Regions from separate parts of the Homo sapiens genome. Here region 1 is linked to region 2. Evidence: fine-mapped expression QTL. A gene starts in region 2. The other region holds a variant in brackets. All regions are shown on one strand. Distances are from middle to middle.

Region 1 (12,901 bases), 66 kb before region 2:
GCAGGCTCCCAGGCTCTGCTCTTGTGACGGAGCACCTCTGCAAGAGAAGACGACACGGGTCTCATGTGCTCCAAGGGTGGGAGGTCACAGAGGAGCTGGCAGAGAAGAGTCCCAAAAATATCCAAGGCGTGTCTCGATGAGACCATCTGAAGGCGGCGCTTTGCTCCCTACGCCGGGGACAGCGCCCGCCAACACTGTGGCCTCCACAGCCTGACAAAGCTGTGAGCTGCGTGGGAAGCCATCGGCCTTGGCCATGGCCATGCACCTGCAGCCCAAATGGAGACAGTTTCTCCTCTGCATCTCATCACAGATGTTACCCTGGTTCCTGCACTGATTCAAATACATCTATGGCTTTTATTTTATTTTATTTTATTTTTTTGAGACCGAGTCTCACTCTGTTACCCAGGCTGGAGTGCAGTGGTGCAATCTCAGCTCACTGCAACCTCCGCCTTCTGGGTTCAAGCAATTCTCCTGCCTCAGCTTCCCGAGCAGCTGGGATTACAGGCACACACCACCACACCTGGCTAATTTTTGTATTTTTAGAAGAGACGGGGTTTCACCATGTTGGCCAGGCTGGTCTCAAACTCCTGACCTCAAGTGATCCGCCCACCTCAGCCTCCCAAAGCGCTGGGATTACAGGTGTGAGCCACCATGCCCAGCCATCTATGGCTTTTAACTGCTTTCTAAAGTAGGAAAGCCCTTTGCCCTAGTAAAGGCATTTGTACCTGAAACGTTACCACAGATTGTAACAGCGAGGCCAGATGCAAGGCCCCAGGACAGTAGGGTCCTAACACCCACTTCAGGTTCTTCATCTTCCTTATCCTCTCAGGCCTGGGAGACCCTCCTCAGGGAGCAGGCCTGGCTCCTGGGCCACACCAGTTCACCTCCTCCCTCCAATAGCAGGACAACTTGAGGGGTGAAGGTTTTGCCTACAAGGGCCCCAGGCTCCTGCATGTGAAGCCAGGCAGCCTCTGATCCCCACACCCCTGTGCTCCCCAGCACACCCGGGGACACGCACACCACAGCCTCCCCCAAGGAGCTGTGTGCAGAAAGAGGATGCTCGGAAGAAGTAAAATGTCCTGGCCTCATCTATGATGTTAAATAAAAGACATTTTGGCCAATGTGACACCAAGATAAAGCCACTGTCTCTCGTGGGAAAGGCACATGTGCTGATGCCACCCTGAGGCCCCTTCACGGCCCATACAGAAGACCCTGAGCAAGAAAACTTCGCCAGGAGTGTCTCCCCATAGGGAGGGGCCTCTCACTGGGGCTCCCGTGAGCAATGGGAACAGATTGGAAAGCACAGGATAGCAATGACACCCACACACCATAGCTCTCGGTCAGAACAGAGGGGCCCACACACCACAGCTCTCGGTCAGGACGGAGGCGCCCACACACCACAGCTCTCAGTCAGGACGGAGGTGCCCACACACCACAGCTCTCAGCTCAGAACAGAGCTGCGTGCCTCGGCCACAGACACCTCCCTAAGGAACCCACCCGCCAGGCACCACTGACCATCAGGAGTGAAGCCACACTCAGAAAATCCACTGAATGAGCCCTGAAGGGGGAACTCCCTCCAAGAAGGCACCTTACAGAAATGCTGAACCTCACTGGACCCTCATCCTCCTTTTCAGAGGGCAGCACACTGCTCTCACTCCCAGGGTCCAGAAGCTTCCATCTGATCCCTAAGCCACACAGTCAAGGCCAGGCCCTCCAAAGTCCACCCTGAGCCTAGCCGGACAAACCTGGGTGTGATCAAAGGCCTGGGGTATGGGCACACCTCACTTCTCAGGACCCACATTAAAAAGAAACATCAAATAAGAACCAAAGAGAGACTGAAGACAATCCTACAGCCCCTTTCCATGCTCCCTCAGCGAGTTCCTCTTAACGTCAAAGCAGCTGGAGGGGAGCGAGAGCACCTGGTGCCTTCCCAGCTTCCAACAGGCAATCCCAGGTTTCCGTGGAAGACTTCACAGTGCCCTTGCTGAAAGCCGGCCTCCAGGAATCCCTGCACACCAGCCTCCCCTGGATCACGTCATCCTGCCCTCGCCTCCTCACCCAACTGGGGCCGCGTCCTCCTCTCTGCAGGGCGGAGCCGCTGCCGGCCCAGCACCCACGGGAAGGCCCCTGCTCCGGCAGCTCACAGACAAATCTCCACAAGCAAGTTTCTGCCTCCAGAAACCTATGTCAAGATGTCCAAAGGAGAGGGAGAGATGGATTAGAGGAGTGACAGAGGCCTGCTGCACTAGGCGCCTGGCTAGTGACGTCCCACGGGAGGAGACAGGGTCAAAAGCAGGTCACCAGCTCTACAGAGCACATGAGAAACATAAGCATGAAGGTGCTCAGGCGTGAAGGGAAGACGCCCACCTTGGGAGAAAGAGTCACATCTTTCATTCATTTCATTCACTCCAGGATGAGCTCACAGGCAATTCAAGCCTCCAGATGGCGGGCACAGCAGCGTGCCACAAACAACACAGAGAGAGGGCACGGGGGGACAGGGGCTGCACAGAGGACACTAGGTGGAGGGAGGGGAGAGGGAGGAAGAGGGGGAGGGAAGACTGCTCATTGAGATGTCAGGCTCAGCCTGGATACCAGCCCCATGGCAGGCCCTGCACTGTCGGCCAGAGGGGCAGGACACATGGTCAGCCGGGGCACATAAGCAGGTCCCCGCCAAGGAGTGCCAGGACTCCGACATGAGCACCCTCCCAACCAGCACACTGCCAGGGCAGGCACCACCACAGGAGCTCACCCCACAAAGCCCTGCCGATACTGGGTAGCAGCACTGGTTGCCACCACTGGACCTGCGTCCTGGAGAGACAGGTCCTCTAACTGGACAAACAGAAAGCCCGCCTGACCCCGACAGGAGCCCTCCCTGACAGTGCAGAGGGGAACAGCTGGCAAGCAGAGCCAAGCAAAAACGCAACTCTCAAAACGACACTTCTCACCTGACAAATACCACAGGACACATTCTGTTACAGGATTATTCTCATCGCATCACACATACAAGGAAAACCAGACCTAACCCAACTCACTACATAAAACCTCGAAGAGCAGGGCAGGACAGGTCCTCTCTAAATCAACAAAGCATGTGAGGACAGCTGCCTGGGTGAGGCAGTCCTGTAGGAGAGGGGACGGCCACTTCCCCTAAAACAAGGCACCACAGAGGATGTGTGAGCTGAGCTGGACAAGACGACGGTCTGAAGGAAGTGCCTTGCCCAGCAGGCACAGTGGCCCCCGGGAGAGGACAGCGGGGTGTGCAGCAGGGACAGTGGCCCCCGGGACAGGCCAGAGGGGCGTCCAGCAGGGACAGTGGCCCCCGGGACAAGCCAGCGGGGTGTGCAGCAGGGACAGTGGCCCCCAGGACAGGCCAGGGGGGCGTCCAGCAGGGACAGTGGCCCCCGGGACAGGCCAGCAGGGTGTGCAGCAGGGACAGTGGCCCCCGGGACAGGCCAGGGGGGCGTCCAGCAGGGACAGTGGCCCCCGGGACAGGCCAGCAGGGTGTGCAGCAGGGACAGTGGCCCCCGGGACAGGCCAGGGGGGCGTCCAGCAGGGACAGTGGCCCCCGGGACAGGACAACGGGGCGTCCAGCAGGGACAGTGGCCCCCGGGACAGGCCAGGGGGGCATCCAGCAGGGACAGTGGCCCCCGGGACAGGCCAGCAGGGTGTGCAGCAGGGACAGTGGCCCCCGGGACAGGACAACGGGGCGTCCAGCAGGGACAGTGGCCCCCGGGACAGGCCAGGGGGGCGTCCAGCAGGGACAGTGGCCCCCGGGACAGACAGCGGGGCGTCCAGCAGGGACAGTGGCCCCCGGGACAGGACAGCGTGGCGTCCAGCAGGGACAGTGGCCCCCAGGACAGGACAGCAGCGTGTCCAGCAGGGACAGTGGCCCCCAGGACAGGACAGCGGGGTGTCCAGAGCCACAGCCAGAGCCTGGGTTCTCAGTACATGCTCCTCCCTGACAGGCAAATGCTCTGCTGGTCCCAAGTCTTGGGGGTGAGGCCCTGACAGGTCTGGGTGCACAGTAGGTGAGGGACCCACCACGGCGCTGGTACTGGCTGGGGCAGGCTCAGGACCCCCGTTCACGTCCACACTCCTGTCCCGCTTGGTGTCCTCCAGGTCTGTCACCGTGCTGGGGCCCTTCTTCTTCTTGAGCTTTGCCAAGATGGAGGACTCCCGCTCCGGGAATGGGGGCATCTCCTCCAGCACGGTCGCCTTGGAAAGAACACAGGGTGGGACTGGTCAGAGCTCCTGGCCTCCAACCCTCAGCCAAGCCAGCCCGAAGGGCGGGGGCCTCCTACCAGAATGTCGGTGCTGGCCACGGTGCTGAGCCGCAGGTACTCCACAGCACGCTGCTGCAGCTCCACGTCTGCGTTCCTGAGCTGGCTGTCGCTGCGCAGCACGTCCTGGATGGTGGGCTTCACCTCCGGGAAGAGGTTCACGAACTTGATGTAGGTGGACAGGAGCAGCGCGCGGGTGGGGACGCTGCACAGGTGGAACTTGGAGTGCAGCAGGTGGAACTGGATCAGCGGGCTGGGGACGGGGAGGCACAACACAGGGACACCGTCGTCCCCTCGCAGGCTGCAGCACGCCCCCGCGGGGGGGGGACGGCGGCGAGACCCCCTGGCCTGCACCAGAGGCCGCTGGTCGGGACCCTCTTCCAGCTCCAGATCCCACCGCAAAGACGCCCCTTTCACTAAGTCAGCCATCAACCCCACGTCTCCATTTTCTACTAGAATCCCTGCTTTTTCTATCAACTGAAGGAAAACAAAAAGACGCCGATGGGGAGCAGAAGCGGCTCTGCGAGGCCTCACGGCAGGGCCAGCTGGTGCCTCGCCTCTTGCCACCGACCACCGAGAGGCCCGCCGGAGCGCACACAGCCCCGACTCGCAAAGGGCCTCTCACCTGGATCTCGGGTCTCCAGCTATCAAGTTTCCAAACTCCCCCAGGATGTAGCCGCCCACTTTGACCAGGTTCTCGTGGCACGCGGGAGCCTGAAGAGCCTGCGAAGCACAAACAATGAGCCGGGGTGGCAGCCAGGTGCCAGAGTTAAGGCGAGGCGGGCACGTCCTGGCGCGGTGCACCCTACACCAGCACCAGCCCCTCAGCTTCCTGGAGACCCCAGTCCAAGTGCCCATCCCTGCCTTCCTCAGCACCCTCAGTACCTGTGTCAGCAGCAAGGAACCCAAGGCTGCCACACGCTGACCTGCCCTGGAGGGAGCTGCAGCATCCACAACAGGCTCTGGCTGGGGAGGTTCTGCCAGCGTCCTCATGGCACACCCCTTGCCGGTGGCCTAACCCTCTCCGACGGACAGGGCAGGCCCCACCACGGCATGCCCCAGCATGCTCTCACACACACAGAGGCCGGCTTTCTCAGGTGGCCCCCAGAGAGCCAGAAGTTTGAGAGTTAGGGTGAGAAGAAACTGGGACTCAGCAAGGGGCACCAACAGTGGAGGAGCTAGAGCCTCAGGGAAGAGCTGAGGGGCAAGAGGGGTCAGCAACGGCCCTCGGCACCTCCACGCAGGCAGGCTGGAACCACTCACTGCTCACCTTCTGCAACTGCCCTCCACCCCATCCTTCCTGCCATCCTGC[G/C]GGCCATACCTCGAACACAGTCTTGGCCGCGTAGCCCTGCACGTCGTCCCGGTTGATGACGATCTGAATGACTCGGTACCACACCTCTTCACTCACGTAATCACCAGCAATTCGGATCAAGTTCAAGATGGTATCCACATACCAGGTGTAGTCCACCGCGTACTTCTCAGCCAGGATGGCGACCTTCAGCACCTGTGGGGGACAGGCTGCTGAGGGCCGGCACCTGCAGGCCATGGCAATCCCAAGACCAAACTGTCGTCCAAAGTCAAAGTGAGAGTTTCAGAAGCACCTCAATGTGTCTACAAAAGTTTGGGACATGGAGGAAGCTTGAACTCGATTCTCAAAAAAGCCCACGAGCCCAGAAAGTTTAAGATGCCCTGACTTAAGCAAAGAAAGCCAGGAAGAGGCGGAGACCAGTGCACAGAAGGCCACGGCCACAGCCAGGCCACCTCCCACCTGGGCCCTTCTCTCCCAAAGCCCCAGCACCTGGCGGCAGCACTCCTCTGACCTCATCACCCTAGGCTCCCGGTGGCAGCACTCCTCTGACCTCTGACTGCGCCACCCTGGGCTCCCGGCGGCCAGTGACTGCGCCACCCTGGGCTCCCGGCGGCCACTTCTCTGCTGGTTTCTTCCGGCTCTGGCCAGTCTTTCCTGCGAGCCTCACCTGGGGGTTCCCCTTCTTCCCCTCTCTGGCTCACTCTCACGGGTGCCCCCCGGAGGCACCTGCCCAGCCCACACCCACGTGGCAGCCACCCACATGGAGCTCTGCCAGGCTGTACAACACCAAACTCATCTCCCCAAAGTCACCTCGCCTGGAACCAAGCCCCCTTCGAACAGCGCCAGCTGCCAACACCAACGCCAGCAGGCATCAAGACCGCGCACCTCCCGAGGGCACCCCTAATACCCTGCCGCCCCTCCCCACACCCTGCCGCCCCCTCTCCACACCCTGCCACTGGCCTCTCAGGTGCTGGTGACTGTGCCCCCCCACCCCAAGTCCCTGCCTGGAGCCTGGACCCCCAAACCCCAACCTGACTCCGTGACACTTCCAGGGCATCATTCCAAAATGTACTGCCTCTGAGCCCTACCCGCAGCTCACGGCTGTGCACCAGGGGCCCTCAGGCCTCACTGGCAGGGTCCCCATGTCTGCTTCCACCCCTGCCTCGCGTGCCCTGCTCCCCAGCCTGTGCTAAGGTACCTCCCACCCCTCCACGAACGGATGCTCTGCCCTCCCAGTAGCCTCTGCACCATCATCCTCTCCAGACCAGGCCACTATCACCTTCTGCAGAAGTCCACACAGCCCCCCAGGAGTGTAATGCCTCCTGAGGCCCCCAGAACATGAGGCACTTCCTCCAGCCATCCCACCCACAGCACAGCAACCCACGGTCCTGCTCTCAATCCGTCCCCCTCCATGGATGGCAAGGTGCCGAGTAGGCAGGGAGTGGGCCATGTCCAGTTTGGACACTTAGCACCTAGCACAGCCAGAGAACACGCCCTGCCATGCTCGACTGAAAGGACAGAGGGAAACACCATGCCCGGCTGAAAGGATGGAGGGGAGCACCATACCCGGCTGAAAGGACAGAGGGGAGCACCATACCCGGCTGAAAGGACGGAGGGGAGCACCATACCCGGCTGAAAGGACGGGGTGGGGGGAGCATCGTGCCCGGCTGAAAGGATGGAGGGGAGCACCATGCCCGGCTAAAAGGACGGAGGGGAGCACCATACCCGACTGAAAGGATGGGGTGGGGGGAGCACCATACCCGACTGAAAGGATGGGGTGGGGGGAGCACCATGCCCAGCTGAAAGGATGGGGTGGGGGGAGCACCATGCCCAGCTGAAAGGATGGGGTGGGGGGAGCACCATGCCCAGCTGAAAGGATGGGGTGAGGGGAGCACCATGCCCAGATGAAAGGACGGGGTGGGGGGAGCACCCTGCCCGGCTGAAAGGATGGGGTGGGGGGAGCACCATGCCCAGCTGAAAGGATGGGGTGGGGGAGCACCATGCCCAGCTGAAAGGATGGGGTGAGGGGAGCATCATGTCCGGCTGAAAGGACGGGCTGGGGGGAGCATCATGCAGGCCAAGACACAGCACCTGTCTTACTCCTCACAGCAGGAGCTGGCTGAGGATTGCCGCTCATCACGCAGAGGGGCGAGAGCAGACACCGGGCTGACGAATGCCCAGGACCTCAAAATCTGCACAACTGCACTCAGAAGCACACTGCTTCTGTCTCTGTTCAAAACACCCAGAACAACAATCAGGAACGAGGCTCCCGTGACGGCCGTCCCCAGAGCCAGCCCCACCCCACCACAAGTGCTGACACCAGGCCACACTGCCCCAGCCAGGCCAGAGAGGGACCACTGGCTACAGTCAACGAGCACCTGCCTGGCCCCTCTACAGACAGCCCTGCCCTACACCACGGTGCCTGCCCTTGGGGCCTCCTGCCGGGAGTCAGCCCACCCCGTCCCTGTCCCCCTCAACTTCCCAGGCCCACTGTCCTGGAGGGTGGACAGTCCAGCGTGAGAGCCGCCTCCTGGCCCCTGCTCTCTGCAGGTCTGCAGTGCCTCACTGAAGCTCAGTCCATGGTAATTTCACCCCTCAGCATTGAAGCCCCAGCACCTGGGCTCCTCCGTTCACTAAAAGACCCCTGAAAACCCGAGTCTCTCACCTGGGCATGACCACACAACACCTGCCCAGAGCAACCCTGTCACCTGCCACTAGCTCCAACACTGGCTCTCGGCAAAGCTCCCAAGGAGGCCTTGAGCCGCACTTCGCCCAAAAAAAACAAATAACAAAGCGCTTTCTATACAACGGAGGCGCTGTCTCAGCCTCAACAAGAGGCTGTGGTCCTGGCTGGTCACAGTGGCGAACCCCACGCGAGGACACCGGGCCTCCCCCTTAAACCCCACCATCCACAGACACGGTGAGCCTGAGAGGCCTGTGAGTGTGGTGGAGGCCTCAGGCCCTCTTCTCTGCTGACCATGTGGCCTCCACAAGGGTTTCTTCCCTCAGGTTTTGGTTCATGCTCAGTCTTTCACACGTACAGGTTTGATGAGCTTCAGCTATCTGGCAAGTGTGCACACCTACTTTGTGAATAAAAACAACACGGGACATTAAGCTATGGCCTAGATCCCGTCCTTCCCAGAGATCAAGAGGGACACCCAAAAAAGCCAAGCCACAAAGGATTAATTCAAGGGCTCAAAATGCAACACAATTAAAAGAATTTTGCCCACAGGAGTCTGGATTTGTGCAGCCCCAGCGCAGACGGCTGGAGCCTCACTCAGACCTGGGGCTACAGTGCCACCACTGCAAGGACAGGCAGGCCACAGAAGCCGCGCAGGACGGGCATTTTAGTTTTTTTTTTTTTGAGACAGAGTTTCGCTCTTGTTGCTCAGGCTGGAGTGCAATGGCGCAATCTCGGCTCACCACAACCTCCGCCTCCGCCTCCCGGGTTCAAGCGATTCTCCTGCCTCAGCCTCCGGAGTAGCTGGCATTACAGGCATGCGCCACTACGCCCGGCTAATTTTGTATTTTCAGTAGAGACGGGGTCAGGGTTTCCCCATGTTTGTCAGGCTGGTCTTGAACTCCTGACCTCAGGTGATCCGCCCGCCTTGGCCTCCCAAGGTGTACAGGCGTGAGCCACCACACCCGGCCAATAGTTATTTTCAAGACCAAACGACTCTACCAAAAATGCTGATTTTTTTTTAAGACAGGGTCTCGCTGTGTTGCCCAGGCTAGAGTGCAGTGACATGATCTCGACTCACTGCAGCCTCAACCTCCTGGCCTCAGGTGATCCTCCCGCCTCCACCTCAGGAGTAGCGGGGACCACAGGTGCCACCACACCCAGCTTGAAAATGTGGATGAAAACACAGAGGCAGAGGAGCCTTGTATTCAGCATCTCATGGGTTCTCAATCAAGTCCTGCTGGACGGAATCGCAGAGCACGAAGGAAATCCTGCCGCTGAGATTCACGCCTGTGGCAGGAGAGGACTCAGAGGCCACCAGAACTCACAATCTCTTCTCGGATGGAGTAGTCAGCTGTCTCCAGATAGCTCAGCATCTCGGCCACGATCTGTGGGGCGTTGCTGCGGTCGCACATGGCGTAGAGGAGGTCCACGGCCCGCTGCCGCACGCTCACGTCCCGCTCAGTCTGGGGAACAAGGCACAGAGTAAGAGGTCGCAGGAGCAAGGCACAAGCTTGGGGACAGGCTGGGGACAGGCTCGGCACCCGCATCTCAACACCCACTCTGAGTTTCCCTCACATGCACATCCAGGTCCAGGGAGCCGACCTGCACTCGGGCCACGTGTGTCTGGACAGCCCGGAATAGAGTTCCGCCTGCTGGCCCGGCCCTCCCGCACAGGCCAGCTTCGCTAGGACCCAGCGCACTGCCTGGATTCTGCCCGCTCGTCCATGCCTCCCTTGCCCTCCACAAGGGCCAGCTTCGCTAGGACTGAGCGCACTGCCTGGTGCAGGCCATCAAGGACTCCCTTCCATGCAGCCAAAGACCCCACTGCCTCGGACACGGAGCTGCCCCAAGGCAGGTCCTCACGCCCCACCCCAGAGCCCGTGCTGATGGGCCCCCAGGAGGCTCTGCAGCACGAGAAAGCCCGAGCTCTGCTCCCAACAAAGGCAGGAGAGTGGGCACCACCAGCGCTAGCACTGGCCGTGTGCAAATGAGTGTCCAGCCCTTCTGACAATAGGGATTGACTAAAACAAACACCAAAACCAGGACCAAGAAGAATCCAGAATACCAAATGCCCACCACGAGCCCCTTGCACACCACCCGGAATATCTGTGAGCTGCACGCAGACGTGCGGGGGACTGGGAGCAGCCCTGCCACAGCCTGAGGCTGAGCCAGATGGGGGACATGCAGCTCCCCGCCTCCCACTCCCTAACGCATGTGCACCGGTGACTAGGGACTTGGTGGACACACCGCAGGGTCCCCTATGTGGAACGAACCCTCGGGGTCGCTCTGGAGACTCGCAAAGGCTGGCAATGGCCAACCTCAACTGGGCTCTTCCAACTCTGAAATTTTTTTTTTTTTTTGAGACGGAGTCTCGCTCTGTCGCCCACGCTGGAGTGCAGTGGCGCGATCTCGGCTCACTGCAAGCTCCGCCTCTTGGGTTCAAGCCATTCTTCTGCCTGAGCCTCCTGAGTAGCTGGGACTACAGGCACCGGCCGCCACCACGCCCGGCTAATTTTTTTTTGCATTTTTAGTAAAGACGGGGTTTCACCGTGTTAGCCGGGATGGTCTCGATCTCCTGACCTTGTGATCCACCCGCCTCGGCCTCCCAAAGTGCTGGGATTACAGGCGTCAGCCACCGCGCCCGGCCCCAACTCTGAAATTTTAATCCCCGAACAAAGTGAGTTTCCTTTGTAAAAGGGGGATTTTCTTGGAGATAAGGGAAAAAAATTTCATCTTTCTACCAAGAAGAACCATTTCTACTTGTCAGCACTATGCACGCGCAGGATGGCACACGGGGGCTGCCCCCAGCAGGGAAAGGGCTGCCAGAGACTCCTCTGCTCAGCCTAACCAGGACAGCAGGGCCAACCCGGCCATCTCCAGGCAGCATGGCCCTCAACAGTGGTGTGACCTCCCAAGAGTAGGTGACAGGCGGAGGCCAGCAGCACCAGCACCACCTCCATCTCTGCGGGGAGTCAGGAGGCACTGCGTACCCCCAGCCTTCACAGGAAGACCCACGGCACCTGCTCAGGGAGTGAGCAGAACCCAAGGACAGGGCACTCGCCTTCAGGGCGTTGATGACCGTCTCGATGTGCGTCTTGACAGCCTCATGGGAGAACTCAGAGCTGGCCAGCGTGCACATGCTCTCCAGGGCCAGGTAGCGCAGGTTGGTCTCGCGGTGCTGCAGAAACTGGCCCAACTGGTTGCAGGCACGGACGAGCAGGTTCGGCTCACTGTGTGGAGGGAGGGGAAGTGGGTGGGGTTTCCTCAGCAAGTGCAACACAAACTGGACAGAGTCTGCGTTCCCCGACGGGTCCAGATGGCAGACAGCAAAGTCACACGGCACTCACCGCCACCACACTGCTCAAGTGGGAACTCGGGGGCCTCCCCAGATGCAGATGACGCCCGACCCCCACCCCTGACATCCATTTTGTGTCCATCCTGTGCATCCCCACAGTGAGTCAGCAGCCCGTGTGTCCACTGGAGCCTTCCCAGCACCTCCTGAGCCTCAATCTGCATCAGGCCCGCGGGAGGCCGGTCAAGCTGTGACCGGCAATGGGGTCTCAGCCAGAGGCACCAGCCCAGGGCAGGGAGAAGGCCGAGAAGGCCGGGAGCGCGGCTGCTGCCCCACTGACTCTACTGTCTCCTCAGGATGTGGCTTCTCCTCACATAACAACAGAGCTTTCTCCAAAATGGGAAATTTCAGTTTTAATAACTCTCAGTTCTGAAGTGTGACTCTCAGACTGAGTTTTCATCATTTGTAAAAATGCTGTAGTAGCAAATGGGTGGTGTTCACAAGCTGTAGAGAGCGTCTGCCCACAGCCTGGCACGTGCCCTCATTATTGGGAGCCTGGTGAGAACTGCGATCTCATTCTCACAGGACCCTAAAGCATGGCCCCACACGCAAGACCCACGCCAGACCACATGTGGTGCGCCGCAACTGCTGAGCAGAGAAGGCGTGGGAGCAGAGGAGGCAGACCCTCCAGGCTGTGTGGAGCGACCGCCACCCTGCGCCTCTGCGCTTCGTGGATGGGCACAGACGTTTCCAGCACTGCCCTGCGACCCTGGACCCACCAAGTGCGGCTCCACATCCAGCAAAGCCACGGGACATGCGCGCACACCCCCCACCCCACCCGTCTCCTCTCTGTTCCACTACATGAGAAGCCAGTCAGGAGTGGGGATGCTCAGGGGAAGGAGGAAAAGGCCCTCGTGTGGGATGAGACCACAGTCACCAAAGCAATCCACGGTGAGCTCAGAGCAGGAGGGGCCGGGCTGCACAGAAAGAAAAAAAGCATCCGGCAGGGAGCACAGAGGCAGGACGAAGGGGAGGCCCATGGAGTGGACAAACCAGACATGATCCGCCCAGTCTCGTGCCAACGAGAAGGAACGTGTGTGTGTGCGCGAGACGAAGCCTCTCCACAGGCAGCCGACACACCTGTCATGGTGAATGATTAAGCTGATGGCCTCGAAGAGCACGGCATTCTTCGCGTTGGAGTGCTGGACCTTCTTCGACTTGGGCGGTTCTTGGGCTTTGTTCAGGATGGTCTCCAGGCACTCAGTCAGGCGGCCTCGCACTGCAGGGTCTTCTGGGCAAGACAGAACGGTGCTCACCAGTCTCCAGTGGCCCGCAGCCCA
Region 2 (11,504 bases):
CAGCCTGGGTGACAGAGGGAGACTCTGCCTCAAAAAAAAAAAAAAAAAAACAAGAAATGGAAGGGACCAAGTTTTATGCCAACCACAATGAGCAGAGCACTGATAATTTTTCTAATTTATCGTGAAACCTGCAGCAAAACTGTATCACTTTCTTCAAGACCATGGAAATTCATTTTTGCCATCTTGCTAATAACATCTCTCCATCTGTTTCCCCTTCATGTGAGGACCTGGGGGGGTTAAAGAAAACGCCTCCAAGCATCTGCACCACACCAGCACCACATGTAGAGAAATAAAAATGGTCATTTCCTGCCTGAAGTTGTTTTCCTGGCAAACTGACCGGTCTCAAAAGGACTTATCACTTCTTCCCTTTCCTTGCAGTCCTGATTGTTTTGCAGTCAATTCTCAGAGCCTGACAACATTTTCAGCAGTGCTGTGTCTCTCCAACAATATTCTAGTGTTGGCATGTCAACAGCAATGCATAAAGACATGCATTCACTAAGTTAGATACAACTCTCCTCTGCAGATATGTCATTTGTGTAAAAACAAACGAAAGTTCCAAAATAACTGAATAAATAGCAAATAATTATGGTCTTGTTTCCCCAATTTCAGCAGTTATTTTGTTTTCTCGGTATCTTTTGCTCAAATACAATGTCAATCAATGCACCAGCCTGAATGGACCTCGATGGGACTGTACTGAGGGGGAAAAAAGCAATCTCAAAAGATCACATATGATGTGATTCCCTTTATATGACATCCTTGAGCCCACAAAATTACAGAGATGGAGAACAGATTAGTTTCAGGAGTATGGCTATAAGGGGTAGCTTTGTGATGATGGTATAGTTCTGTATCTTGACTGAGGTAGGGAACCGGTTACACAAAGCTACAGGTGCTAAACTGCATAGAACCACACACACACACGTGCATGTCGATCTAACGAAATCTGAATATGCCTGGTGGTGTGTACCAGTGTCTGTTTCCTGGTGTTGAATATGTCCTGTAGTTATGCAAGATGTCCACATTAAGAAAGGTAGGGCACCAGGCACAGTGGCTCACGCCTGTAATCCCAGCACTTTGGGAGGCCGAGGCCGGTGGATCACGAGGTCAGGAGACCGAGACCATCCTGGCTAACACGGTGAAACCCCGTCTCTACTAAAAATACAAAAAATTAGCCGGGCGTGGTGGCGTGCACCTGTAGTCCCAGCTACTCGGGAGGCTGAGGCAGCAGAATGGTGTGAACCCGGGAGGCGGAGCTTGCAGTGAGCCGAGATCGCGCCACTGCACTCCAGCCTGGGCGACAGAGCGCAACTCCGTCTCAAAAAAAAAAAAATTCTAAAACTGGGACTAAATAAAAGGACTAGAATTTTTTTAATGCCAATTTAAAAAAAAAGAAACAGTTTATTAACTCTCACACACTGAATGCATGCTGACCAAATGCAGTGGCCGCTGGGTTGACGTCAATCAGAAAGGATGAAGTTAATTTTAGGAGACATTAAGTTAGTTCACTACCTGAGCCACAAAAGCTACAACTTTGAGGGGCAGAGCTTGACACGAGGCACCTTTTCAAATCCTGGAGCATATTCATTGCTGCCTATGCTAAGAGGAGTAATGCCCCAAGCCAGTCTGCTGGGAGTGGGTTACTTGAAGTGAAAACAGAGCATCCTAGTGTCCACATGCTCCCTGTCCGCTACCTCAGATACTTGGCACAGGGCTTTTTTTTTTTTTTTTTTTTTTTGAGACAGAGTCTCGCTCTGTCACCCAGGCTGGAGTGCAATGGCACAATCTCAGCTCACTGCAAGCTCCGCCTCCTGGGTTCAAGCGATTCTTCCGCCTCAGCCCCCGGAGTAGCTGGGACTACAGGTGCATGCCACCACGCCCAGCTAATGTTTGTATTTTTGTGGAAACAGTGTTTCCCTATGTTGGCTAGGCTGGTCTTGAACTCCTGACCTCAGGTGATCCGCCCACCTCAGCCTCCCAAAGTGCTGGGATTACAAGCGTGAGCCACCGCACCCGGCTGGCACCAGGTCTTGGAGGGGAAAAACTTTTTTTTTGAGGCAGGGTCTCAATCTGCTCCTCAGGCTGCCCAGGCTGGAGTGCAGTGGCGCAATCCGAGTTCATGGCAGCCTCAACCTCCAGGGCTCAGACAATGCTCTCACCTCAGCCCACTGAGTAACTGGGACCACAGGTGCGTGCCACCACGCCTGGCTAATTCTTTTTTCTCTTTTGAAAAGACAGGGGTCTCACTATATTGCCCAGGCTAAAGGAGGAAAACTTAAGAAACTGGTCAGAAAGACGCAAATTTGGAGCTGAAACAGGCTTTAACGATATTTCAGCTCAAAATCCGCCCCTTCAAGCGTCAGCTGAGGAAACTGAGGCTCCGTGGCTAGTGGCCTCCACTCACGCAGCTTTAATGATATTTCAGCTGAAAATCCAGCCCTTCAACTGTCCGCTGTGGAAACTGAGGCTCCATGGCCAGTGGCCTCCACTCATGCAGCTGCTAAGAGGCAGAGTCAGGGTCAAGAGCCTTGGCTGTTGGCTCAGAGTCCTCTTTCCACAGGGCCCGACTACTCCTATCATTCACTCTCATGACAGGAAAACAGCACACAAAATCAGAGCTGGCCAGGGAAAGGGGAAGCGGGGACCCCTCTGCCTGTGACATGGAGGTCAAGTTCAGATCAGCTCAAACCCTGGCTGGCTCTCCAATCCCGTCTCCAGGCACCAGCCAACATTCATTAACTCAATACGTATATACATTAATTATTTGCTGTTCCTCTAATACCTTCTTGGTCTTCTGCCTGAATTGCCCAAGAATCACCTTCCTTGTGAGGTCTTCTCTGGCATGCACCTCGCATGCCAGACGCTCGCCATGAGGAGAACAGCAGGAAAAATGTGATGAGCAAGATAGGGTGCGCACCTTGTAGAGGCCACCCTAGAGGGCAGTGGGGGAGATGGGGCCACTCAGGTGAAAAGCAGCACCACAAGCTGAAGACACTGCCCAGGAGGAGAATGGTGGGCGCTGCAGCTGATGAGAGGCCATCCAACAGCAATGAGGGAAAGAGGATTCCGAGAAAGGGGCCGTATTAAAGAGACCTGGCTCCCCCAGCTAGGACTAAGCACCCCTTCTTCTACGAGCTCCTTCAGGGGAGGGGCTGTGTTATTCAATGGGATACACTAGTGGTTCTCGACGGCGGACAACTTTGCCCTAAGGGCACATTTGTCAATGCCTGGAGACATTGTTCCTTATCACAACTAAGGCAACTGGTGCTGCTATAAACATCCTAAAAGGCACAGAACAGTTCCCCACAATAAAGTGTGATCCAGCCCCAAATGTCAGCTCTGCTGAGTTGGAGAAAGTCTGGTCTATATAGTCAAGTATTTTATAGAGTACAGCAGTTTCCCCATATCCACAGGTATACGTTCCAAGGCACTCAGTGGGTGCCTGAAACTTCAGATGATACTAAATCCTATACAAGCTGCTTTTTTCCCACACATACCTATGAAAAAGTCTAACTTACAGATTAGGCACAGTAAGAGATTAACAGAAGCCAATAATAAAAAAGAACTGTAATGATATACTGTAATAAAAGTTATATGAATGTGGTCTCTTTAAATATCTTATTGTACTATGCTCACCTATTTTCAGATCACCAGAGGTAACTGAAACCTCAGAAGGTGAAACCACAAATAAGGGAGGACGGCTATACCGCACTCACTGTGGTAGGCGCCATCCTGTCAAACGCAGGCCCTGGCACAGACAATATATCTGACAAGTGGGTGACTTGCTGTCTGAGGAAATGGCTTTCAATCTCATTGTCCTGCCTAACGCAATTTTCTTCAAAAATGGAAGGACAGACATCATAGCGCATTTAAGGGTACTCAGTCTTTGTCCCAGAGGTCCCCTTAAGAAATAATACACACACTTAGTTTTACAAAATGCATGTTGGTCTCATTATGTAACAAACAAAGAGAAAAAATGCTACTCGTAAAAGTGCTGATCTGAGGGTGTTTCTAAGCCTTTTTTTTTTTTTTTTTTTTTTTTGTGAGAAAGGTCTCACTCTGTCACCCAGGCTGGAGTATGGCGCGATCTCAGCTCACTGCAGCCTTAACCTCCTGGGGTCAAGTGATCCTCCTCTCTCAGCCTCCCAAGTAGCTGGGACTATAGATGTGTACACCAATACGCCCAGCTAATTTTCGTATTTTTTTGTAGAGACAGGGTGTTACCACATTGCCCAGGCTGGTCTCAAACTTCTGGGCTCAAAAGATCCACCTGCCTCAGCCTCCCAAAATGCTGGGACTATAGGTTTGAGCCACCGCACCCAGCTCTATGCTTTTTTTTTTTTTTTTTAACAGAGTACAGGAAGGGTTAGATGGTCCTCTACCCTTCCACAGAGTGTGGGAGAACCACTATCCTCCTGATCCTCCATCCCGTCTAAGGAGATGAGAATTCAAAGGGAAGATCACAACAGTCCCTCAAAATACACATTAAAAATTATGAGGGTGCCGTGGCTCACGCCAGTAACCCCAGGACTTTGGGAGGCCAAGACAGGTGGATCACTTGAGCTCAGGATTTCGAGACCAGCCTAGGCAACATGGCGAGACCCCCCCATCTCTACAAAAAACACGAAAATCAGCCAGGCATGGTGGTGGTGCACGCTTGTAGTCCCAGTGACTCCGGAGGCTGAGGTGGTAGGATCACTTGAGGTGGGAGGTTGAGTGCGCCGTGATGGAACTACTGCGCTCCAGCCTGAGAGCCAGAGCAAGACCCTGTCTCAAAAAAAAGAAAAACAAAAATCATGAAGTCAACTATTTGCTGGATAACAAGGAAAAAAATCAACGCAGCAGACAGGAAACTGGCTTTGTTTCTCCCTCAAATTAAATAAGGAGATGGCCTCTGAAAGCCAAGAGGAGGTTCTGCACACCAAAGTCAAATTAATTGGTGGACCGGTGCACCCACCCAGCCACCCTGCACATCCTTCTAACAGGCCCAGCCTTCCTGGCTTGTTTAACGGTTTGGTGTGGATTTTTCCCACCCCGAGGGGACAGGCACGGGGCTGAGAACGAGGTCTGTGATTGGAGCAGCAGGCAGCGAGGCCATCCCACACCCCGACTGCTGCTCGTGTCCAGATTCCCTCCGGGAATGAGTCATTTTAATCGTCGTAGGTGAGATCTAATCAGGGGTTAATAAGCCTCCAGAACCCAGGTCACAAAGCTGTTTCCTGGGAAGACACTGATTTCCAGATTTCTGCTCCCAAAGCTAAAATCCACGCCGTTTTGGAAAACGCTGGGTTAAACGCTCCAGTACTAGAAAGACCAAGGTGACATCATGCTGGGGAGGGGCGTCTTGGCCCGGAACCCCCTTGGTGGTGCCGCAGCCCCCCGCACGGACCAGCAAACGGGAGTGGAGATGTGGATGAAGGGCCGTGCCCTAAACCCCTAGACCCCGCACCCCTAGACCCTGGACACCCCACCCCGCACCCCCAGACCCAGGGCCCCGCTCTGCATCCTGACCCGCACCCCCATACCCGATACCCCAAGACTCTGAGCGCCGCCCGCACCCCCAGACCCTGGACCCCCACCCCGCACCCTGGCCCCCACCCCCAGACCCGGTACCCCAAGACCCCGAGCGCCGCCCGCACCCTCAGGCCCCGGGCCCCGCCCGCATCCCAGCCTGCACCCCCGCCTCGAGGCCCCGCCCCGGGCCTCCGCTCCCAGACCCCGTCTCCGCCGGCGGCCCCGGCCCCGGCCCCACGCCGCCCCCGCCACTCACAGTTGCGGATATCCGAGATGAAGACCGCCAGGCCCCGCATCCCGTCCCCCTTGGACACGGCCGGCATCTTCCGACGCTCGGGAGCGGCCTCGGCTGGCGGACCCGGGCGGAGGAGCGCGGGGAGCGGGAAGCGGGGAGTGCGGTCGCCGTCACCGCCGCGGAGGAGCCGCCGGGGAGCCGCCTAACCACGGCCGCCTCAGGGTCCCAGCGCCGCTTTCTGGGCCGCCGCGCGCGCGCACGTACGGCGCCCGCACCAGCACGCACGCGCACGCACGCGAGCGACGACGGACGGCGGCCGGGGCGGGTGTCGCGTGAGGCAGCGCGCGCGCGTCCGCGGCACGGGGGCGAGCCGGTCGAGGCAGGCGCGGGGGCGCCCCCTGCAGGCGGACACCATGGACGGAGCCGCTGAAGCCACGCGTTCGCGTCCCGGGGCCGCGCCAAGCTGGCGATGCCGCCCGCGTCCCCCACGGGAAGGGCGTGGGTCCGGGCGGGAACCCGCGTGTGCAGCGGGCCGCCTCTGTCGTTGTTGGTGGTCACTGCAAAAGAGGCGGCCACGCAGGCACACGCGTACGGCCTCGTCCTGGGCCTCGGCCCCGCTAGCTTGCCCCGAGCAGTCTCCGTTTTCTTACTTGGAATAAACGACCTGTGAGCGCTGGGCGGCGGGGCAGCTCCGAGGCCAGGGCCTTGTTTGTTCCGCGGGGGCCGGGGCGGGAGGGCGGCGCCGGGAGGAAGCTGGGGCTCCAGGCGAAGGGGTCACAGCCGCTGGACGGCCTTTGGCGAGGAAACCCTCCCCTAGCACGGTATCCTGAGACGGTGGGGCTGGCCCGCCCCTCCTGCCGCCCTGAGCCGCCAGGGCCACATCTCTTGCGGTCCCTGAGCTGGGGGCGAGGCAGGCCCCGTGCCCGACCCAGCCCAGGGTCTGTGTGGCAGCCCAGGTGCCCCCTCCACATCACCTGGGCCTGCAGAGAAACAACCACCCACCCCACCCCAGTGACAGCGGCCGGGGGCGGCAGCCCCTGCGGAATCTAGTCCCTCGGCGGCGCCAGGACTTTTGGCCACTGTTGCCAGGGCCCCCTCTGCTCCCCAGCCCTCTGCACCACTGCAAGCTGGAGGCCTAGGCCCACCCCTGTGGACACATCGCAAGGGAGGACCTGCTGGGCCAGGCTGCACAGCTCCAGGTCCCGGCCAGGAAGAGACCCCAGGGAGTGGGGAAGCAGATGGCCCTGCCTCACTGTCCTTCCCAGAGCCAGATGGCTTTGAACAGGAAGCTCCCTCCTGCTGCAGTGGGGGGATCTGGACCCTGTACCTGGAACTGGCCCAGACCCACCAGCCAGGGCTTTGTCCCCACCCTGGCTCACTTCCGCAGCCCCAGATGAGAGCTTAGCCCTGGTGGAGCCCGGCCAGGAGGAGGGCACAGGACCCATGCCCCTCCCCAATGAACCGGGTGCCGCACCCAGGCTCTGGGCCTCCAGAACTCCTGGGGAAAACCAAGATCTGTGACAGACCCCAGTCAGCATAAGGCAACCAAGTCCATCACTTCCCAAGACAGAGGCACGGAGCCGACCCAGCAGAGGGCTTCCTGGAGGACGGTACACCCCTCCGGAGTCCCTATCCTCTCCCAGTGCCACCTCCTGGCAGAGAAAGTGGTCCCGGGGCTGTTCATTCTTCAGCCTCTCCCTTCCACCAAGAAGCTTCCCTCCCCTGTCCCTGACAACAAATAAAGGCCATTCTGGACACAAGAGCATCTTGTGCCATGTGAGGGGTCCTGGGCTGCTCTCCAGGACAGTCCCAGCAGTCACGAGGACCGTCCACTAACACACGTGGGCAGAGCATGGGCTCTGGGCGTCAGGAGGCTGGCATGCCTAATCCAAGCTCCCATTGGCAGTGGCAGTGCAGAAGACCGAGACAAGCAGACCACTGTGCCCCCCCACCAGCAGCCACTCACAGAGCAGGGCAATGGGGGTGCTGCAGGGGCTGCCCACAGGAGGGCTTGGGCCTGGCAGGCATCCCCCTCCGCCCACTCGGAAGACTCCTCCTCAGTGCCAGCTCTGGGATTCCCACAGACATCCTCCCGTCCACACAAGAGTGTTTAGGGGTCCCAGAAGGCCCGACATGCAGCCATGCAAAAGACTTCCCACCTCCTTCCAGCGTCGTTGCCCTTGCAGACACGCAAGCCCTCCAGATGATTCACTCCAGTCCCAGCCTTGGGTCTGAGTCCATGTGGGCCTCTCTGACCACTGCCACTCCTCGGCTCGGGAGAGGCCAGCTTCGGGAGTGCGCAGTCCTAGGAAACAGTTTCTTTTTCTTTATTTTATTTTTTGTAGTGATGGCATTTCACCACGGTGCCCAGGCCGGTCTTGAACTCCTGTAATCCCAGCATTCCGCCTGCCTGTGTCTCCCAAAGTGCTGGGATTACAGATGCAAGCCACTATGCCTGGCCTATTTATTTATTTATTTATGTTTAATTTTAGAGACAGGGTTTCTCCCTTTGACTCCCAGGCTGGAGTGCAGTGGTACAATCATGAATCACTACAGCCTCGACCTTCTGGGCTCAAACCATCCTCCTGCCTTGGCTCCCAAAGTGCTTAGACTGCAGGTGCACGCCACCACACCTGGCTAAGTTTCTGATTTTTGTGGAGATGGAGTCTCACTATGTTGCCCAGGCTGGTCTTGAACTCCTGGGCTCAAGCAGTCCTCCTGCCTTGGCTTCCCAAAGTGCTGAGATTACAAGCCACTGTGCCTAGCCTCAGTATCTTTCTTTTTTTTTTTTTTTCTTCCTTGAGATGGAGTCTTGCTCTGTCGCCCAGGCTGGAGTGCAATGGCATGATCTCGGCTCACTGCAACCTCCACCTCCCGGATTCAAGCGATTCTCCTGCCTCAGCCTTCTCAGTAGCTGGGATTACAGGCACGCACCATCACGCCCGGCTAATTTTTTGTATTTTTAGCAGAGGTGGAGTTTCACCATGTTGGCCAGGATGGTCTCAATCTCCTGACCTCATGATCCGCCCTCCTCGGCCTCCCAAAGTGCTGGGATTACAGGCGTGAGCCACCGCGCCCAGCCATTTCTTAAATTATTTGAACGTTTGTCATACTTTAGCCACGCAAGGTCACAGTACTATTCCCAAGGGCAGAGGTGGGGACGAGTCGCTTTCCTTCATCCACAGCCATGGGGAAGCCAGGGTCCACAGATACAAGCCCGACGTGGGCATCATGAAGGGAAAACAGGCTGGGGCCCCAAGCTGCGGTGTGGAGGTGCTGTCTCACTGCAGCAGGGTTCCCCAACATATAGCCCCTGCAGCGTTAGCTGGCCATGCCCTGGGTCCTACCCAGACCTGAACATGTCTGTTTTACAAATGACCCAGTTTCCTTCTCATCATCTCTGGCGTAAGTTGCAGACAATGACCCTTCCAGAAGAGGGTCTGGCAGCATGTTCCATGTACAGTTGGTCCCTGTGCACTCATGAGAGTTCAGGGACAATGAGGTGGCATGCTCAGACCCTGTGGCCCCCCCGTGATCATCTGAGCACCTGCAGTCCCCAGGAGTGACATGCTCAGGGAAGGCTGTGGGAACTGACTGTCCCCTGCCATGGAAGGGTGGGAGGCATGAGGGGTGCATTCTGGAACTCTGCGGTGGGTGGGTGCGTCAGGTATAGCCAGCCCACCTGAAGGAGGAGAAGATGAGCTCAGGCTCCTGAGTGCTCATCACGGGGCGGGTGGGAGCTGCCATGACCACACATCTTTCTCACCACTGCAAAGCCGGAGGAATACAAAGCCATTCACAGCTGGGCCCAGACAGCAGCAAAACAGCCACCAGGGTGGGAGGTGCAGCCTCCCCAGACGTCTGGCGGGAGAGCTGCAGTGCTGTGCGGGGCCCAGAGAACTGGCATGGGGTAAATTCGATAACCTGGGACCCCAAGCCCCACTTCCCAAGAGTCCCCGCCCAGCTCAGCCCTTGATCCTGAGTCAGGCCCCAACACATCCACACCCACAATCGCACAGAGGGGGATGACTGGGCACCTGTGAACAGCGGGAAGCTGAGTTTCTGTCAACAAAACCCCACAGAACACTTGTAGGATGGCTTTTGAGACACAGGCCCCGGACAACAGCTGGGTCCTTTGCAGCACCCACGGTGTCTGGATCAACTGAGCCAGCCTGGCAGCCCAGGGTCCGTCCGGCTGCTGCTGGGCCAAATTCCTGGAAGCTACATGCAGGGCAGCCCCTAAAACATGGTTACAATGACAGAAATCCCTGGACATAATGCAGAAAAAGGGGCTCAGAGGACTCAGGGACTGAACCTGCCCAGCTTCTCCTAAGGAGACCCTTCCTGCCAAAGGCTTGGAGATGTGTAACTTGCACAAGGCCAGCACCTTCACAGGCTCTCAGGGCCGTCCTCTGAGGCTGTGGGGGTGCAGCCACATCAGCAGGCCCCCTGCTCTCAAAGGAGAAGGGCAGCTCGGGGTGACTAAGGCCAAGGAGGCCAGACACCCCACTAGGTGGCAGGGTGATGACATCATCAAGGTCTGTCCCAAGCAGCCCCTAGTACGGGTTACCGGCTCAGGGCACCCTTGGGCCAACAGAGGGGCAGCCCTCTAAGCTCCTGCATAAGATGTGTGGTCAAGGCCAGGCACGGTGGCTCACACCTGTAATCCCAGCACATTGGGAGGCCGAGGCGGGGGGATCGGGGGATCATGAGGTCAAGAGATCAAGACCATCCTGGCCAACATGGTGAAACCCCGTCTCTACTAAAAATACAAAAATTAACTGGGCATGGTGGCACGTGCCTGTAGTCCCAGCTACTCGGGAGGCTGAGGCAGGAGAGTCACTTGAACCCAGGAGGCAGAGGTTGCAGTGAGCAAAGATCACGTCACTGAACTCCAGCCTGGTGACAGAGCGAGACTCTGTCTCAAAAAAAAAAAAAAGTATGGTCAAGAAAATTCCAGGCCAGGCGCAGTGGCTCATGCCTGTGATCCTCTCCCATAGGAGGCAGAGGCGGGTGGATCACTTAAGGCAGGGAGTTCAAGACCAGCCTGGCCAACATAGTGAAACCCTGTCTTTACTAAAAATATAAAAAATTAGCTGGGCATGGTGGTGGGCACCTGTAGTCCCAGCTACTAGGGAAGCTAAGGTAGAAGAATCGCCTGAACCTGGGAACTGGAGGTTGCAGTGAGCCAAGATCCCACCATTGCACTCCAACCTGGGCAACAGAGCAAGACTCTGCCAAAAAAAAAAAAAAAAAAAGCCAGGCACAGTGGCTCACACCTGTAATCCCAGCACTTTGGGAGGCCAAGGCAGGTGGATCACGAGGTCAGGAGTTCAAGACCACCCTGGCCAACATGGTGAAACCCAGTCTCTACTAAAAATACAAAAAATTAGCTGGGCGTGCTGGCGGGAGCCTATAGTCCCAGCTACTCCGGAGGCTGAGGCAGGAGAATGGCGTGAACCCGGGAGGCGGAGCTTGCAGTGAGCCAAGATTGCGCCACTGCACTCCAGCCTGGGCAACAGAGCGAGACTCAAACAACAACAACAACAAACAAACAGCTCCCTGACCATCACCTGATGGTCAACTGACTTTCCTGGTTGGGGGACGGGGAGCAGGGGAGCCCTCTCCCGCACCGCTCACGTCTGACTGGCTACCTACTGTAATAGGAAGGCAACGTGGAAATCCTGGGAGCCCCCTTCCCAACCCAAGGGGTAGACCAGTGGCGCGGCTGACGACTAGTGACACCCTCAGAGGGTCTGAT

Evidence for each region.
Region 1: its variant is fine-mapped to the expression of AP2A2 in whole blood (TOPMed, PIP above 0.99).

Annotation. Positions count from the first base shown.
Region 1 is chr11:985,383-998,283 of GRCh38, reverse strand. AP2A2 (adaptor related protein complex 2 subunit alpha 2) reads right to left here. Exons shown (of 22, transcript NM_012305.4): 8 at 12,702-12,849; 9 at 11,331-11,499; 10 at 9,595-9,732; 11 at 5,599-5,781; 12 at 4,903-5,000; 13 at 4,299-4,530; 14 at 4,039-4,212. Among named protein-coding and RNA genes, the nearest start is that of MUC6, 45 kb to the left of the region's middle. RefSeq lists an enhancer at 3,476-4,000. The variant G/C (reference allele first, on the strand shown) is at 5,590.
Region 2 is chr11:920,349-931,852 of GRCh38, reverse strand. It overlaps AP2A2 (adaptor related protein complex 2 subunit alpha 2), which reads right to left and starts at 5,983. Exons shown (of 22, transcript NM_012305.4): 1 at 5,765-5,983. The coding sequence starts at 5,831. RefSeq lists a silencer at 5,632-6,171 and an enhancer at 11,171-11,504.